Homo sapiens: one gene and its partners. The protein of the gene in region 3 interacts with the protein of the main gene of each other region in a biochemical or structural test. Each region holds a gene or a part of one and is shown on either strand. Other genes may lie near its edges.

Evidence for each region. Proteins that work in one complex are often made in the same cells at the same time.
Region 1: the proteins of FAF2 (region 3) and NF1 form a complex in vitro, tested with the Homo sapiens proteins (one study listed by BioGRID).
Region 2: the proteins of FAF2 (region 3) and ELAVL1 form a complex in vitro, tested with the Homo sapiens proteins (one study listed by BioGRID).

Annotation. Positions count from the first base shown.
Region 1 is NC_000017.11:31,223,977-31,230,976, forward strand, and holds part of NF1 (neurofibromin), read left to right. Parts: intron 1-1,118; coding exon 1,119-1,274; intron 1,275-2,458; coding exon 2,459-2,708; intron 2,709-3,241; coding exon 3,242-3,315; intron 3,316-3,546; coding exon 3,547-3,630; intron 3,631-5,048; coding exon 5,049-5,489; intron 5,490-5,858; coding exon 5,859-5,998; intron 5,999-6,283; coding exon 6,284-6,406; intron 6,407-6,865; coding exon 6,866-6,949; intron 6,950-7,000. UniProt on the Homo sapiens protein: Stimulates the GTPase activity of Ras. NF1 shows greater affinity for Ras GAP, but lower specific activity. May be a regulator of Ras activity.
Region 2 is NC_000019.10:7,967,642-7,974,641, reverse strand, and holds part of ELAVL1 (ELAV-like protein 1), read left to right. Parts: intron 1-763; coding exon 764-917; intron 918-6,851; coding exon 6,852-7,000. UniProt on the Homo sapiens protein: RNA-binding protein that binds to the 3'-UTR region of mRNAs and increases their stability.
Region 3 is NC_000005.10:176,507,385-176,510,574, forward strand, and holds the end of FAF2 (FAS-associated factor 2), read left to right. Parts: 3' UTR 1-2,690; downstream 2,691-3,190. UniProt on the Homo sapiens protein: Plays an important role in endoplasmic reticulum-associated degradation (ERAD) that mediates ubiquitin-dependent degradation of misfolded endoplasmic reticulum proteins.

The DNA of each region.
Region 1 (7,000 bases), on a different chromosome or scaffold from region 3:
TGGGAGTACTTGATTTAATGGGTTTTTGTCCAGTTCTAGAATCATAGCTCTGAGAAATCGTAAAGACCTAGATCTCATGGCTAGACTAGTCCAGAGAATTATCTATCAAGAAGCAAAAGGGAAACAGTTGAGGGTCCTCAATCTAGATTTATTTCGATTCCTCCAATAAGGGTTTCACCTCTTGAAAATATCAGGAGACTTTTTCATTGGGGTGGAGTGAAATGTTTTGATTCTGAACTATTGAAACATGGTGAGGTTGTGGAAGATAGAGAAGAGCCTTAAATTTCTTTTAACATATAGTTTCTGTAATTAATCAATTTAGGAATTCTGTTATGGCCTAGTTTTCGGAGTACTTGATTTAATGAGTTTTTATCTGGTACTAGAAGCATAGCTGTGAAAGACCTTAAATGTATGAAACTCATATCCTTTTCAGTATTTACAGCTTGTTATTAATAAATTGTCTCTTTAGAAATAGACTAATGGTGAAGTGGGTTTATTCACATGTGACTTATTTGATATGTTAATGTAGTGGAATTTGGCATTATTCCAAAGATACAGAAAGAGATTAGACTTCAGACTTTCATGGCCTCGCCTATGGTATAATCTCCAGAATGTGAGTATGAGGAATCCAGTAATGAATTCATAGTGCCCTGGTAGGCATAGTCACTCTTGTGACATACTTGGTGTATATACATACCAGAGTTAATTACTGGTCCAGAAGAACTTAATCTCAAGAGCCAATTTCTGGTTATCCCAACATGGCACAGTATAAAATCTTATGGAAAAAAAATCTTTGTCATTGAGATCAAATTATAGTTTTCATACAGTAGATTTATATTGTTGATGTTTTACTCATGTTTATGTCAGACTTAATTTATATTTGTAGAATCTACTGTTTCTGATGATTTAGAGAATGGGAAACTGAAAGAAATTTTAAAGAATTAAGTAAACCTTGTTTGTTCTAATGGGTTTCTAGTGAATCTCCTTCAAGTTGGGGCATAGAGATTGAGAGGAGAGGTTTTTTAGGAGAGTCTCAAACAGGAAGACAACTCAAATAAGTGTTTATTCCTCTTGGTTGTCAGTGCTTCAGTAAAGCTTATTTATTTATTTTTTTCTAGCAGGCAGATAGAAGTTCCTGTCACTTTCTCCTTTTTTACGGGGTAGGATGTGATATTCCTTCTAGTGGAAATACCAGTCAAATGTCCATGGATCATGAAGAATTACTACGTACTCCTGGAGCCTCTCTCCGGAAGGGAAAAGGGAACTCCTCTATGGTCAGCTTCTTCTGTACTTTTTCTGTATCATTTTATGTGCTCTGTTTGTTTTCTGAATGAAATTTGGTAAATTTCATCTAGGTAATATAGTGTAATAGTGAAAAACTGCTTAGAATCTAGTTCTATTACTGCTCTTTGTGGAACTTTGGGCAAGTTCTTAACATCCTTGTTCCTCAGTTCCTCAACTTTAAAATGGGGACAGTAATAGTTCCTGCCCCAGAGTTGTTAAAGAGGGTTAAATAAAAGGATGTGTAAATAGCACTTGACACTTACAAGCTATATCTGATAATTATAATTATTATAAACCTCCACTCCATAAAAAACCCATTCATACCACAGAAGTATAGAATTCGTACCGGCTAACAAAGGTACAGATTTACAGGGATAAAAACAAAGTATTTTGCTTCATGTTAAAGATAAGTGTTTCTGTGATTTGTGTTTGTGTGTATAATTTCTTTTAAATATAAATCATATTTCAAGTGAAAATATCACATCATTACAGAAGAGTTTATTTTCCAAACCAAAACTTTTTTCATTCCTAATTTTTAATGCAACCTTGTTAAGGAAGAAACACCTAAGCAGTATGATATTTACTAATGTCTGTTTTACTTGTAGAATTTGCATTTATTTTATCAATTATTTTCTCCATTTCGTGTTTGGAGAATAAGTAATTCAGAATCAAATGTATCTTCTACAGCAATATTTAGTTCTTGTTTATGCCCTTGTTTCAATGAGTGCTGCAGTGTACTTATTTTATTACTTCCCTATAGCAAGTAGATAGAATTTCCTGTTACTTCCTCTTTTTTTGTCATTTCTAATTGACTGGGAGGTACATTATATTGTTACTGCAGTAGATTTACGTTATGGTGTTTACCTGTCCATGTTAGAATCAGTTTACATTTCTGGAATCTGGAATAGGATAATATCTATTTGATTTGAAATTGAACAGATGGTAGCATTATGTTGGTCCAGATAATCTCATTTCTCATTTGGACAAGATATTTTGGGGTTTGAAAAATTCCTATAATGATTAAAGGAAAAAGCTCTTGTGAGTTATTGTATGCGGAGACACACACACACACACACACACACACACACACACACACACAGTTTATTGCATTGTTAGATTTTATACATAAAATTACCCAAGTTGCAAATATATGTCTTCCACCCTTGACTCTCAGGATAGTGCAGCAGGATGCAGCGGAACCCCCCCGATTTGCCGACAAGCCCAGACCAAACTAGAAGTGGCCCTGTACATGTTTCTGTGGAACCCTGACACTGAAGCTGTTCTGGTTGCCATGTCCTGTTTCCGCCACCTCTGTGAGGAAGCAGATATCCGGTGTGGGGTGGATGAAGTGTCAGTGCATAACCTCTTGCCCAACTATAACACATTCATGGAGTTTGCCTCTGTCAGCAATATGATGTCAACAGGTAAATGTGAATAGTGGTTTTTTTTACTCAGTCTGCCTCAAAGCACATGGCATCTGATTTTGAGAATGTATTTAAGGTCACTACTTTGTAAGTTTACAGGGGAAATTCAAGTAGCTTACTTGAAATCCTTTTCTGAACAAAGTAAGATGAAAATAAAAAGCATTTGAAATAAATTGTTAGTCTTCCACTGAGTTGTTAATATGCTATACATTTTAAAAATAACTGGCAGTAGATGTTACTATCAGTTATGATTATGTAATTTACTCTGCCTAAGTTGTAGATAGTGAAGTTTTACAAACATTGGCGTATGTTTTGAGTAAATTGTAGGTGGGAATAGCTATTTTATTCTGTGGACATTGTAGAGTCCAAGATAAGTACCTTTCCTGTGAGGTTAGTGAAAGGAAGTTTTTGGCTTTATCATTTGAAGCATTTGCTCTGCTCTTCCTACTCCTTTTGGGTGGAGCTTATCAGGTTCTCCATTGGCAGGCAGGGCTCTAAGTGCAGTAACTTGATTTGCTGTTGTATTTGCTTAGGAAGAGCAGCACTTCAGAAAAGAGTGATGGCACTGCTGAGGCGCATTGAGCATCCCACTGCAGGAAACACTGAGGTATGCCCTTAGCAACAGAAACACCCCTCCCAGGCGCCCACCCTCAATTTGGAAGCCTCTTGTTACATATGTGTGATCAGGAATAGCTTTTGAAGTAAATCCAAGATACGTGCATATTACAAGTATAATATCTGAGTATTTAATATACATCAAGTTTGAAACTTGGCTGTAGCTGATTGATGTTTAGCTCTAGACTAAGTTGCTTTCAAGTGATAATTGCCTTCATTTTAGGCTTGGGAAGATACACATGCAAAATGGGAACAAGCAACAAAGCTAATCCTTAACTATCCAAAAGCCAAAATGGAAGATGGCCAGGTAAGTCTGTAAAGTTGACTTTTGTCTGTTAACTGATCTGCTAAATATATGTACTTCACTTTGATAATCTTTCAAGAGTCGCTCAGTAAAGTAAACATATAGCTGTGTGAAGACTGATATTTAGTTGTGGTTTATCTAGACCTGTACTTTGTAATGTGGTAGCTACTAGCTATGTGTGACTATTTAACTTAAATTTTAACATAATTAAAATTAAATAAAATTTAGTTCCTCAATCATATAGTAACCACATCGCAAGTACCAGTAGCCACATATGACAATTACTTACTCTATTGGACAGCAGAGAGAGAAAATGTTCCTGTCATCACAGAAATACTGGGCAGCACTGCTAGAGACTGTTTGTTGCAGAGACCATTTCTTTACCTTTTCTTGCTCTTTCTCCCTTCATCAGGGTGTTTCACAGAATTTTCAGAAAAGGAGCAACAGAGGTAGAGATAAATTAACATGGAAACAATTCATTTTGCTATTTTGTTAGGTATTCTAATTAAGGAATGTCTTAGGCAGTAGATTGATCCCATAGAGTAAATGAAATTTTAAAATGTGGACAGTTCATTCAACTATTACTATTGACTATATTATCTGTTACTTTGGAAATTAATGATCAGTTAGTGTTTGTGTGTATTTGATTTGTAATGTTCATATTGCTCTCATTATTAGGTGATTTATAAAAACTGGTTGTTCCTCCATGGTGTTTTTGTCATGCTTAATTACAATAGGAAAAAGTTATATTTTTACGAAGCAAATGTGTGTACCTAATACCTTTATTTGGAGGGGACATGTAGCTTTAGAATGAAAGCTTTTGGGGGGATAACTGTTTTATATAATTACATACCATACAGTTCACCCATTTAAAGTGTCCAATTCAGTGACTGTTTTTAATGTATTCACAGAGTTGTGCAACCATCACCACAATCAAGTTTTAGAACAATTTCATCAATTGAGAAAAAAACCCCGTACCCTTTAGCTATCTCTGCCTCTAACCACCCCCCACCCACTTTCTTGCCTCTCTTCCCCCAACGTCTCTAGCCCTAGGCAACCATGAATCTACTTTCTGTCTTTGTAGATTTGCCTATTCCGGATATATTCTGTAAATGGAATTATAGAATATGTGGGCTTTTGTGATTAGCTTCTTTCACTTAGCATGATGTTTCCAAGGTTCATCCATGTGAAATCAAAACTTTTTAAAAGAAATTTGACACTCGGCTGATTATATTAGTGTATGATAAAAATAGATCAGTGGCTCTTTAAAAATGTATATGGTAATTTTATGGGTTGATTTTAATGTATATTTTACATTTTTTGTACTTTTGTCATGGAAGAAATGTTGGATAAAGCATAATTTGTCAAGTCTCAACTAATTAAGGTTTAATTCATGCTTTGCACAAAAATTTTGTGTTTAGGCTGCTGAAAGCCTTCACAAGACCATTGTTAAGAGGCGAATGTCCCATGTGAGTGGAGGAGGATCCATAGATTTGTCTGACACAGACTCCCTACAGGAATGGATCAACATGACTGGCTTCCTTTGTGCCCTTGGGGGAGTGTGCCTCCAGCAGAGAAGCAATTCTGGCCTGGCAACCTATAGCCCACCCATGGGTCCAGTCAGTGAACGTAAGGGTTCTATGATTTCAGTGATGTCTTCAGAGGGAAACGCAGATACACCTGTCAGCAAATTTATGGATCGGCTGTTGTCCTTAATGGTGTGTAACCATGAGAAAGTGGGACTTCAAATACGGACCAATGTTAAGGATCTGGTGGGTCTAGAATTGAGTCCTGCTCTGTATCCAATGCTATTTAACAAATTGAAGAATACCATCAGCAAGTTTTTTGACTCCCAAGGACAGGTAAAGTGTTCTCTTATTTTTCACCTTTCTCTATGAATAGAGTGACTTGTTTGAAATAAGCCTTTTTCTTTCAGATTATTTAAATTAGGTACTCACAGTTTTTAAAAATTTCCAAAAAATTGCAGAAAGAAGAGTCATCTCAATGTAGGGGTCAGCTTGCCTCTTAGGAACTCTGGTGTGTATGTGTGCCTAAGGGTATACGTGCCCTGTGTATGGGTACGAGTGTCTGCGTATATCTGTATGCTTATTTGGCTCTATGCCTGTGGGTGCACTTACTCTGTGTGTTTAGATCAGTCAGTTTCATCTCTCTAGGGGGTCTGTCTTCTGGGCATTGATGGCAAATCATTAATGTATTTGTTCTTTCTTTAGGTTTTATTGACTGATACCAATACTCAATTTGTAGAACAAACCATAGCTATAATGAAGAACTTGCTAGATAATCATACTGAAGGCAGCTCTGAACATCTAGGGCAAGCTAGCATTGAAACAATGATGTTAAATCTGGTCAGGTAAGCATTCTACTGAAATGTAGCAGAAACATTTTAAGAGATAAGAAAAACCTCTTACACACTGATACTGGTAGTAATTGATAAAATAACTGGCCATTCTTTACTGCACACAAACTAGGGTGTGACAGTAAGGTAGCCAGAAGTTGTGTACGTTCTTTTCTAAATAAATATCTTATTGTTTTCAAACTTACATTTAATTCGTTTTACTTGATGACTAAAGTATTTAGAATGCCTTCTCTTTTGTCTATATCTGATAATTTTTTTATTGTTTCTATGTCTATATAGGTATGTTCGTGTGCTTGGGAATATGGTCCATGCAATTCAAATAAAAACGAAACTGTGTCAATTAGTTGAAGTAATGATGGCAAGGAGAGATGACCTCTCATTTTGCCAAGAGATGAAATTTAGGTGAGTTCTCAAAAGAGCAATGTAGGGTCTTGTAAATCTTAATATGTCCAATGAAGTACAGAAAAAGAGTAGATATGCGGTTATTGGTAGAAAGGAGGACATGAAAAGAGAGCAATTTACATGTTTGTTTTTCTCTACATCTCTTCTCAAATTTCCCTAAGCTTTGTGCCTGTGACAATGCTCCCTTTTTCTAAAACTGTGCTATACTTGAGCTAAGAATTTGATTCTATTTCCAATCTGATACCATAACTAAGGGCCATGATGGAGGATAAATATCCATGTTGCTTGTTCCCTTCTGGCTTTTATGTCTGTGATAGCAGTATCTCTTTTATAAAGTCGTCATGTCACTTAGGTTATCTGGCAAATTATTTGCACTATAAGAAATCTTACGTGACTAAAGGTGTGTGTGTGGCTTCAAAAACATTGTTTGCTGTTTCTCTTTTCTCCACCATTCTATAGGAATAAGATGGTAGAATACCTGACAGACTGGGTTATGGGAACATCAAACCAAGCAGCAGATGATGATGTAAAATGTCTTACAAGGTAAAAAAAGAATGACCTTCAAGTATTAGTGGGTTTTACTGTGAGAGTTAT
Region 2 (7,000 bases), on a different chromosome or scaffold from region 3:
AGGCTGCCCCTTCACAGGCAGAGGGGTTCCACTGTGGTCCTTTTCTTCCTTCTGGGCCCATGGGGTCTGCACGGCCGTCAGCGCCAACCTGAGAAAGCACCGAAGACCTTGTCTTGCATTGGCCTCCGGGCTCCCCTCACCACCCTCTCCACACGAATGATGAATGTACCATTTTGTCAAAGCACCCAGAAGGTTCTCTTCAGTTTTCTTTGATTTTGCAAAATATAAATCCAAAAGGCATTGAGTCGTTTAATATTGAACACTTGAGTGGATTTGAGTACAAACTCGGGGTCCTCCCAGAACTCACAGCCCCTGTCAGGGCTTCTGTGGCGAGCTTGCTCTTTGGCAGGGGAGTCTCCTGTGTTCCCAGTAGCTCCCAGCTTGCTTGCCCGCTGCAGCACGGGCTGCTTTCAGGCACCAGGACCTCTCTGGCACCGGCTCACTGTCCAGCACATCAGAGAGGTAGCCACACACAAGCTGCGGGCCCTCAGTTGCTGGGCTTTGTGACATAGGAGTCACGCCTGCCTCCTTGAGGATGGTGAGCACCCAGTGAGGAAGCACTGCCAGGCATCCTGGCTCACGGCCCATCCCTCAGTGAGCTTGCCACCATGCGGCTGCAGGCGGTGAGCGTCAGTGATGATAATCGTTCCCTGCATGATTTCTAACACACAGTGTTGGCTTTTCCTAACCCAGCATTCAACACCCTCCTCAATGCTTTGGCCACGTGCCTGTACTAATCTCGGAAAGTGGTTGTGTTCCCAAGGTGTCGTATGCTCGCCCGAGCTCAGAGGTGATCAAAGACGCCAACTTGTACATCAGCGGGCTCCCGCGGACCATGACCCAGAAGGACGTAGAAGACATGTTCTCTCGGTTTGGGCGGATCATCAACTCGCGGGTCCTCGTGGATCAGACTACAGGTACCAGAGGGGCCCCAGACGCGTGGGGAGGGTGTTCTCTAGGTGGGGGCTGGGTTTTCTAGGGAAGGCAGATCACCGTTTGATTTTAAATGTCATTAGTTATTCCGCAAACGAGGACAGCACCAAAATGAGAAGACGTTGGCTTTGGTTTGAGGAGGCTGAGGAGGTAAGATGGCATTAAAAGAAGCTGGGGATATCTGGGCGTGGTGGCTCACGCCTGTAATCCCAGCACTTTGGGAGGCCAAGGTGGGTGGATCACGAGGTCAGGAGATGGAGACCAGCCTGACCAACATGGTGAAACCCTGTCTCTACTAAAAATACAAAAAATTAGCTGGGCATGGTGGCGGGCGCCTGTAGTCCCAGCTACTCGGGAGGCTGAGACAGGAGAATGGCATGAACCCGGGAAGCGGAGGTTGCAGTGAGCCGAGGTCTTGCCACTGCACTCCAGCGTGGGTGACAGAGCGAGACTCCGTCTTAAAAAAAAAAAAAAAAAAAGCTGGGGATTAGGCCAGCATTTCATGTACAGTGAAAACGCCAAGAGATTCTAGCACCTTCCCTCAGGCACCCAAATGTGCTGGCCTTGCCCATGAATGGGGTGAAAAGGACACTGCAGGCCGGGTGTGGTGGCTCACGCCTGTAATCCCAGCACTTTGGGAGGCCGAGGTGGACGGATCACCTGAGGTCAGGAGTTTGAGACCAGCCTGGCCAACATGGTGAAGCCCCATCTCTACTAAAAATACAAAAATTAGCCAGGTGTGGTGGCAGGCGCCTGTAATCCCAGCTACTCGGGAGGCTGAGGCAGGAGAATCGCCTGGACCCCAGGAGGCGGAGATTGCAGCAAGCCGAGATTGCGCCACTGAACTCCAGCCTGGGCAGCAGAGCGGGATTTCATCTCAAAAAAAAAAAAAAAAAAAAAAAAAAAAAGGATACTGCAGCCAGGTGCGGTGGCGCGGGCATGTCATCACAGCTGCTCAGGAGACTGAGGTGGGAGGATTGCTTGAGCCCAGGAGTTCACAGCTGTGGTGAGCCGTGATCGCGCCACTACACTTCAGCCTGGGCAACAGAGCAAGACCCTGTTTCTTAAAAAAAAAGAAAAAGAAAAAAAAAGGCTGCTGCACATTTGTCCACTGTGGCTTTCGTTGCAGGCATTTGGGGTGCAGTAGTCTGATGGCCCAAATCCCCAGAATTCGGATGCCCCTCTCTGGGGAGCACATCTAAAGTGCACAGAGCACATGGCAGCGAATTCCTCTAATGGGCAGGCAATCCTGGCCACTTTGCTGGCCCTCCCAGTCCGTCTTGGCACTGGATGTGGGCTCTGGGCTTTGTGTGATGCCGTCAGGCAGAGATGAGCAGGGGACATGTGCACGCCCACGGCTGTGCTCCGGCCCTACTGCCTGGCCCGCCTGCCGCACTAGGCTAGGAACTAGTGCCCCACCACATCCTTTGCCAAGCCCTGCACGTGGCCCCGCCTGGGGGACAGGGAGCTCGGGCCACCCTGAGGGGATTTAGGATCGCTCAGCTCTGTTTGGGGCAGGAGCAGGAGTCTGCTAACTAACCAGCAGGGAAGAATCCACTCCCTGAGCCTAGTGAGGCCCATGCGTTGTATGGGTGGTTTTCATATTCTTCCCACACAGACTGTGTGTGCCGCACCTTGGCTGTGATGTTGAAATAACACCGAGTAGTTGGGCCACAGAAAGTCATGCTCTGAGGTGACCTCTTTTTGAGAGAACAGCAGCACTCCCCCAGCAGCCCAGAGCCTCGCCTTTCATGTGCACACAGGTGGGGCCTTCCTGGCCTGCAGGCTAGAGGGGCATGCACATTGTCCTGCGTCCCCTGAGCTGCGTGCTTTGGGGTGGGCGGCCTTATCAGTCTCTCTTCCTCCTCCTTTCCGGCTGTAGGAACCCCACCTGGCATGCACTGGCCCTGCCGCTGCCGGCCTTCGTTCCCGCTGGGGCCCGAGGAGGGGAAGGGCCCCTTTGCACTTCATGGGGGCCCTGGGAGCTTCCTGTAGCCTAGCACAGACTCGCGCCCTGGCACCGGGCAGTGCCGAAGGACAGGGCTCACTCGCACGGCCGCCGCCATTCTGCCTTTGCTCTGGGGAGAGGGTCGGGGGATGCCAGTTACTCGGTGTAAACTCCCCTGGTCTGCACCAGAAGAGTCTCCTGTGGTCCCTGAAGTCCTCTCACTTAAGTGCCAGCTGAGCGAATGATCCTGTCAGTGGGCCAGTGTGTGGGTTTATTGCCCCCCATTCTGCACTGGGGCATCTGAGCTGGCTGTGCAGGGCCCAGGGCCGGGGGAACCAACCTCACTGGCCCACAGTCCACTCCCCTCCTCCTCTAGACCCCACATGCACTGCTCTGCCTCGGCCTGTCTGTGTCCAGTATGGCCCTGATGAGGGAAGCCTGTGCTCCACTTGGAGCCCCCAATGCCTGAGAACATGCCTCCAGCCACCCAACTCTCTTGGGGCCTTCCCTAGTCTCTCAGGCACACACGGGCCACAGGCAGGGGGAACTCACCTCTGCACACAGCTGCTGGGGGCATTGCTTCCTTTCCCTCTGCAAGATAGTGTCTCCCAGGGTGTTGGGGGCACCTTAGTATTGCGCCCCCAGGGTCGGCTGTGAACCTCAAGGTGGCCTAAGGAACCTTTGTCATCTTTGCAGAGCAGTGAGGGAGGCAGAGAGAAGGGAGCCAGGAGGGTCTCCCGGCTCTGCTTCCCACCCCAGGATGCAGAATTGGTGGGAAGGTGAGGCTCCCATCCCAGGGCTGTAGCTCCCTCTGCTGGAGACAGAGTGTGTGTGGCAGGCCAGCCTGTGTGGAGTTTGCCTTCCTGTGACGGGCTTTTTAGTGTTAAATAGATGAGGATGGCCGGGCGCGGTGGCTCACGCCTGTAATCCTAATACTTTGGGAGGCCAAGGTGGGAGGATTGCTTGAGCCCAGGAGTTCAGAACAGCCTGGCCAACATAGCGAGACCCCCAACTCTTTTTTTAAAAAAAGAGAAAAAAAATCCCACCCTGAGCTGACAGAGCTTAATTTTTTGTATTCCTTCGCTTCTATATCCACCTTAATTGTGAACTTTATAGTGTATTCATCTGGAGATTATGCCGTTTCTTGGACTCTGCTGTTAAATTCTAAAAAACACAAGGGGGCCGGGGGCCGTGGCTCACGCCTGTAATCCCAGCATTTTGGGAGGCCAAGGTGGGTGGATCACCTGAGGTCAGCAGTTCGAGACCTGCCTGGCCAACATGGCAAACCCCATCTGTACTAAAAATAGGCCGGGCACGGTGGCTTATGCCTGTAATCCCAGCACTTTGGGAGGCCAAGGTGGGCGGATCACGAGGTCGAGAGGTCGAGACCATCCTGGCCAACATGGTGAAACCCCGTCTCCACTAAAAATACAAAAACTTAGCCAGGCATGGTGGCAGGCACCTGTAATCCCAGCTACTGGGGAGGCTGAGGCAGGAGTATCGTTTGAACCTGGGAGGCGGAGGTTGCAGTGAGCCGAGATTGCACCATTGCACTCCAGCCTGGGCAAAAAGAGCGAAACTCCATCTCTAAATAAATAAATAAAGTAAAATAAAATAAAAATTAGCCAGGCATGGTGGCAGGCGCCTGGAGTCCCACCTACTCGGGAGGCTGAAGCAGGAGAATCACTTGAACCGGGGAGGTGGAGGTTGCAGTGAGCTGAGATCGTGCCATTGTACTCCAGCCTGGGCGACAGAGCGAGACTCCATCTTAAAAAAAAAATTAAAAATAAAAAACACTAGGGGAAGAAAAAAACAAAAAATGCAGAGCCATCTTCAGAAAGTATACATCCATTAAATAATTGAGTGAATTGATATCCCCCTCTGCTAAACAGCATCCCTCCTGCCCCCCTTACTAGAGCTTTCTTCCTTTCACTCAGGCAGTTTGCATTTGAAAGCCACTCTACAACCCCAGACGAGGAAGCCACACTTGCACACGTGCCTTCTCTCCGCTGGGCCGCAGGGTCTTTAGAAACAGAATGAAGCCATCTGCTTGGAGCCAGCTTCCCTACGAGCCGGCCAGCGTCAGCTCTCAGTCGTATTTGCCTAAAGTTCGATTTTCATTTAGGTTTCCAAGACTGACTAAGCTGTCATTCGTGTCGTGAGAGACTCAAAGAAAACAGCATCTGTCAGGGTTGTGTTTTCAGGTGTTCCTTCTGAGCAGCAGCTCAGAAATGAGCTTGAGCCCCAGAATATTCCTGGCACGTGTGCGTAGCGCTAGGTCTGACCTTACTAAAGCTGCTGTCTCTGTGCTCACGGGGGGCCTGCAGTGTCGCGATTGTGGGGGCAGCTGGCGGGACCCTCTGGGAAGTGGTGGAGTAAGGTGCCGTGTGAGGCGTGGAGACAGGACATGGGGACAGTTGGGTGCCCGCTGGACAGGTCACCCAAGGCCCCGGGCTGCCTGGCTTTGGTCGTTGTTTGTTACCATGCACCAGAGGCCTTTGCCTGGAGAAGAAACCTGACTTAAGACACCCTTTGACTGGAAGTCTTTCTTTTTCCTTAAGAGGTGAGATCTTACTGTGTTGTCCAGGCTGGTCTTGAACTCCTGGCCTCAGGCGATTCTCTTGCCTCAGCCTCTGGAGTAGTTGAGACCACAGGCATGAGCCTTGGCCTGGCTTGACTAAAAGTCTTGAGAACCAGGGTGTTTGGGTTGGGCTGTCTGTGACGGCCTCTCCCACTGGGACACACCCGTGACTCCCGCCTAGTGATGTCACTCTCAGACTGGCCTCTCAGCTGTCACCTCTCCCACCCCTGGGCCTTCCCCTGACTCCATCATGTCCTTGCCCCCAGAGAAGGAGCTAGTGCGCTGCTCAGTGTGCCCTCATCCCCATCCCCCTCATCCAGTTTCCAGCCCGCTTCCCAGGTTCCTCAAGGGACGGGCTACTCATGTTTCCCTCCCGGGCCTAGTGTATGGACAGGCAGGGGTGCAGGACAGCCATGCTCTCCTTCCACCCGCCTTGCTCAGCATCTCACACCCATGCCCAGCTGACCAATGTCCCCCATAGCAGGACGGTCCTCAGGTCTCACACTGCTCCGTCCAGGGATTGGGTTTAGCCGGGAACCCGGGACTGGCCCTTGGGTGGCTCAGTTGAGGTGGCAAGAGAAGATGCCCTCTGGGCTTGGCTGCTGGGGCCCTGGCCCTTCCCATACAGGGACCCCAGGCCTGCCTGGCGAGCCTGTGGATAGGTTCAGCTCTGCTGTATGAGCCTGGGCAGTGTTCTGGCCTCATTTGATTCTGATGGCAATTTGGGGCCCACGGGAGGGGTGTAGGACCTTAGAGTGGAGTATCCCAAGACAGGAGTGAGGTGACAGCAGCAGCATGGAGCTGGCAGGGGGTGGCCACAGGACCCTACTCCCTCCTGGCATGAAGGAGAAGGCATGCAGGCTGAGCTGGGCACCTTTGCAGCAGGCTCGGCCACGAGGCCTGCTGTCACAGCGGGCCCAGAGACAGCAGCCAGGAGAGTGGCCCCTGAGCCCAGGGAGGATCTCTCAGACGCAGTCCCCACTCCAACCCTGTTACCCACCAACCACACACCACACCCACGCACCCACTCTGTGGCGGACACCTGGCAGCTAAATAGTGACGGTGGATGTGCTGTTTCCTAATGTTGCTTTCTTCCAAATAAGAGGCCTGGGTGTCTATTGGGGATGTCTGTCACCAAAATATCTTTGGGCGCCAACACTGTGGAGTCATGGCTTCAGCCGGGAAGAAAGTCTGAAGCTTTAATCTTCTGTTAGTCATTGGTTTTCTTTACTCCATCCATTTGTTTTCACTTTTAGGTTTAATTTTTGTTTATTTCCTTAACCAGACTTCTAGCCTGGCCCACAGTAGACTGACCTGACTTTTGCTTTTCAGTTTTGAAAGTCCTAGCGTTTTTCCCCCTAACTCCGTTTTTGTTGATTTGTTGAAAAGGTTTGTCCAGAGGGGTTGCGTTTATCCGGTTTGACAAACGGTCGGAGGCAGAAGAGGCAATTACCAGTTTCAATGGTCATAAACCCCCAGGTTCCTCTGAGCCCATCACAGTGAAGTTTGCAGCCAACCCCAACCAGAACAAAAACGTG
Region 3 (3,190 bases):
CTGCCTCTGGGGAAGAGAGGGAAGAGAAAGCACAGAGCAGAGAAGCAGAGATGTTCCTTGAACTGCCCACAAGTTTTCAATAACTTTTATTTCTGTTTTGTAATGACCAAAGGAATGAGGCTGACATAGGTATATATATATATTTTTTTCCTTTATTTGATAAAGAGCCAATTCTTTAAACCCATGAGTTTATGCCCTGGGCTCCTTAGCCCACAATAGTGTAATAAAAGTGCCCCGGGCTGGTTTGTGCTTATTTCTGCCATTGTCCCTCTCACGTTCCCAGAGAGGTCATTCTTTTTGGTCCAACTCTTGCTGTCCTTTCTTACCACCTGTGCACCCCACTTGGAGCAGTGGGAGGAAATCTGGGTTTGTGGCCCCACAAAGGCTGTATATGTAAAGATACACCTATGTATGTGGTGGAACTCACCTTTACACACAACTGCAGCTTTTCCTTGGAGTCTGTACCAGGTGGTGGTTATGGGGTCTGAACCAAAGGATAGCAGCTCTTCATTCCTCTTCTGACATGTGCATGCTGCTCCCCCCAGCCCTGGGCTTTCCTGAATTGCCAAGCCTGGTGCCTTTCCAAAGGACTAGCAGGGCCTGTGGTGGAGCCAGCAGAACCACAGGAGAGTGCCCTGCCTGTCTCAGTGGAAGTGTATTATTGTTTTAAGGATAGAACCAGAGGCCTTGAAGGGAGCCAAGACAGAACTCCCAGCCTGTGTAATCTATTGGAAGGCACATTTTCATTTCTGATGCAGCCACCTTCTGGAGGCAGCTTTTATCCTTTCTCTCTATTGCTATGTTGAAGTAATAGGGTTTTTTTTAACCTCTGGATGTCTCGTCTGTGGTTGAGTTTATGGTAATGGGTACATGGGTCAGGCCATGTATTAACAGATGCCAGTGCGCTCTGACAAGTATTCCAAAGTGTTCTGTAGCTAGACTGGTGCAGGCTCGTTGTACCACTGCAACCGACTGACGTTACTGTAGTTCCTAGAATGCTGTGAGGGCGGGGGGTTCAGATCAACATAAAGCCTAACTTGCTGGAGTTGTAGTCTCAAGGCTTTCTCTCTTGCTTAACTAAAACCTAAGGACCACTGTTTTTGGTAGCAATTATATGGTTACTATCCACTGCAGTCCTCAGTTGTTGGGGTAAATCCCACATGGCAGAGTAAGGCACCCCACAGAAATTAACTTGGAGAGCCTGAGAAATTCCCAGTGGCCTTGGCATAGCTGTCTAGAACACCATCTCTAGGAAAATTTAATTCTGTCCCTGGCCAGCTATTGTTCTTCCACTTCGTTTTCTGCTGTCCCAAGGCCAGATGAGTGGAATCACCATCTGACTGCTGTCAATAAAATGTATCTGGCGTGAACAGCAGGATAACCCATGTTCTCCACATAAGGATAACCTTACGTGAAACCTTCCTGCTGACAACCATGCAGAGGAATTTTTCCACTTAAGTCAGAGCCTTCCTCCCCATCTGGAATTCACAGCTGTTCCCTGGCAGCACACAGGAGGGTATTAAGGACCTTTGTGAGGCTAGGTACACTGTCCACACCTCTTTGGGGAAGTTACGATTTTTTTTTTCCATCATAATTCAGTCTCTTCTTATTCTACAGTGTGCACTTTATGCCTCTCGCCTTTTGATAATAGTTGTTCAGTGAAGGAAGTCAGCTGCCAGAATATTAAGAAGGGTCTCCCTTTATGTCAGTACAACTGTTAGGGCGGCCTTCCCATTTACTTTAGGTTTCAAGAGGATTCACCGGAAGCACATGCCCCGGTCTAGTCCCATTTGAAACAGTTCTGCTTTACTGAGACCCTAGGCCGGTCTCCTTGCTGACCCTAGCGCTGCTGCCTAGGTGCCATTTCCTTTCCTCCTCAGTCAAATACAGGCTGCACATTTTGTCACTTAATGCCAGTACAATCTGTGTTACTCCTAAGGACTTTTGGGATTTTGATGAGACCTGCGAGGGAGAAGACACTGAGAAGCCAGTGATCTGCAAGCATTTGCTCTTGTTTCCACATCACCTCTGGGATATTTCAGCTGTTGTTTCCAAATGGCAAATCATCAACTAAAAGCACTTGTTTCAAGTTTTGTTCTGCACTCCCACGACTGAAGTTGTAGATTGAGCTGAATAACCATGGGAAGTGACCAAGCAAAGACACTCGATTGGAGTCAGTTGAATATTTGTACCCTCAGTGGAGCCCTTCTGGTCTTTTCTTCCACTTCTGCAGAATTTCCTCTAGCAAATACTTCTTTCTCCTTGCTTGCCTCCACCATGATATTTGAATAAGAGATGGCCAGAGGATAACACTTGTCTCTTAAAAACTAAGCTAAAAAGAACCTAGAACCTTCAATTGAGCAGTTGTGAAAATTGCTAATGGTGCCAAGGCCAAGCAAAGAGTTTCAGAAAATGACTGAGAAGGAGCGATAACCCCCAGAATGCAAAATCAGGGGCATCATTATCCGGTGCTTGAACAAGGAGCTCCGCTCTACAACTGGTTTTTTTAGGACTTGTGAGGAACACAGCAACGGAAATCCATCCACAAAGGATGCAGTGCCCCAACTTGTACTGCGCCTGAATAGTCATGTGATAATTTACTGAAGAAATCTAGTGTACTTTAAATTTTTTTCATAAAAGTTTACATTGTATTGTAGGTTAACATTAAATGTTTTATAGCAAAAACTTCATAACAGGCTGTGGATCTTTCTGTGTGGGACCGATGTGGTAGATAATTTTCTATGTGTGAAGGAGAGGTTGAAAAACACCGGGAGGGAACAGCATGGCATGGCATTGCCAAGAAGGAAGGGAGAGTCAAAGAGAAGGATGGAGTTAGGTCTTCTCTGTTGTATCCCTGTGGAAAAATAGCAACTTAGTATGATGGAGAGAGAGAGCAGACAGGCCTGGGTTCAAATTTGGGCTCTCTAGTTTGTCAGGTTTGCAACCTCGGGCAAATTCTCTAGCTTCCCTGAACTTGAATTTCCCCAGCTATAAATGAAGATAATGCCGTCCACCTCAGGATAGGTTTATAGATTCAATCAAGTAAATGTATATGAGGCTCCTGATATGTAGATGTCATTAAGTGTTTGTTCCCCTTCTATGGGAGTGTATTTTGTAAGAATATTTTCTTGGAATAACATTTTCTTAAGGAATTTGTCACTTTTGTTGGAACCAACTTGTGTCCTTGCAA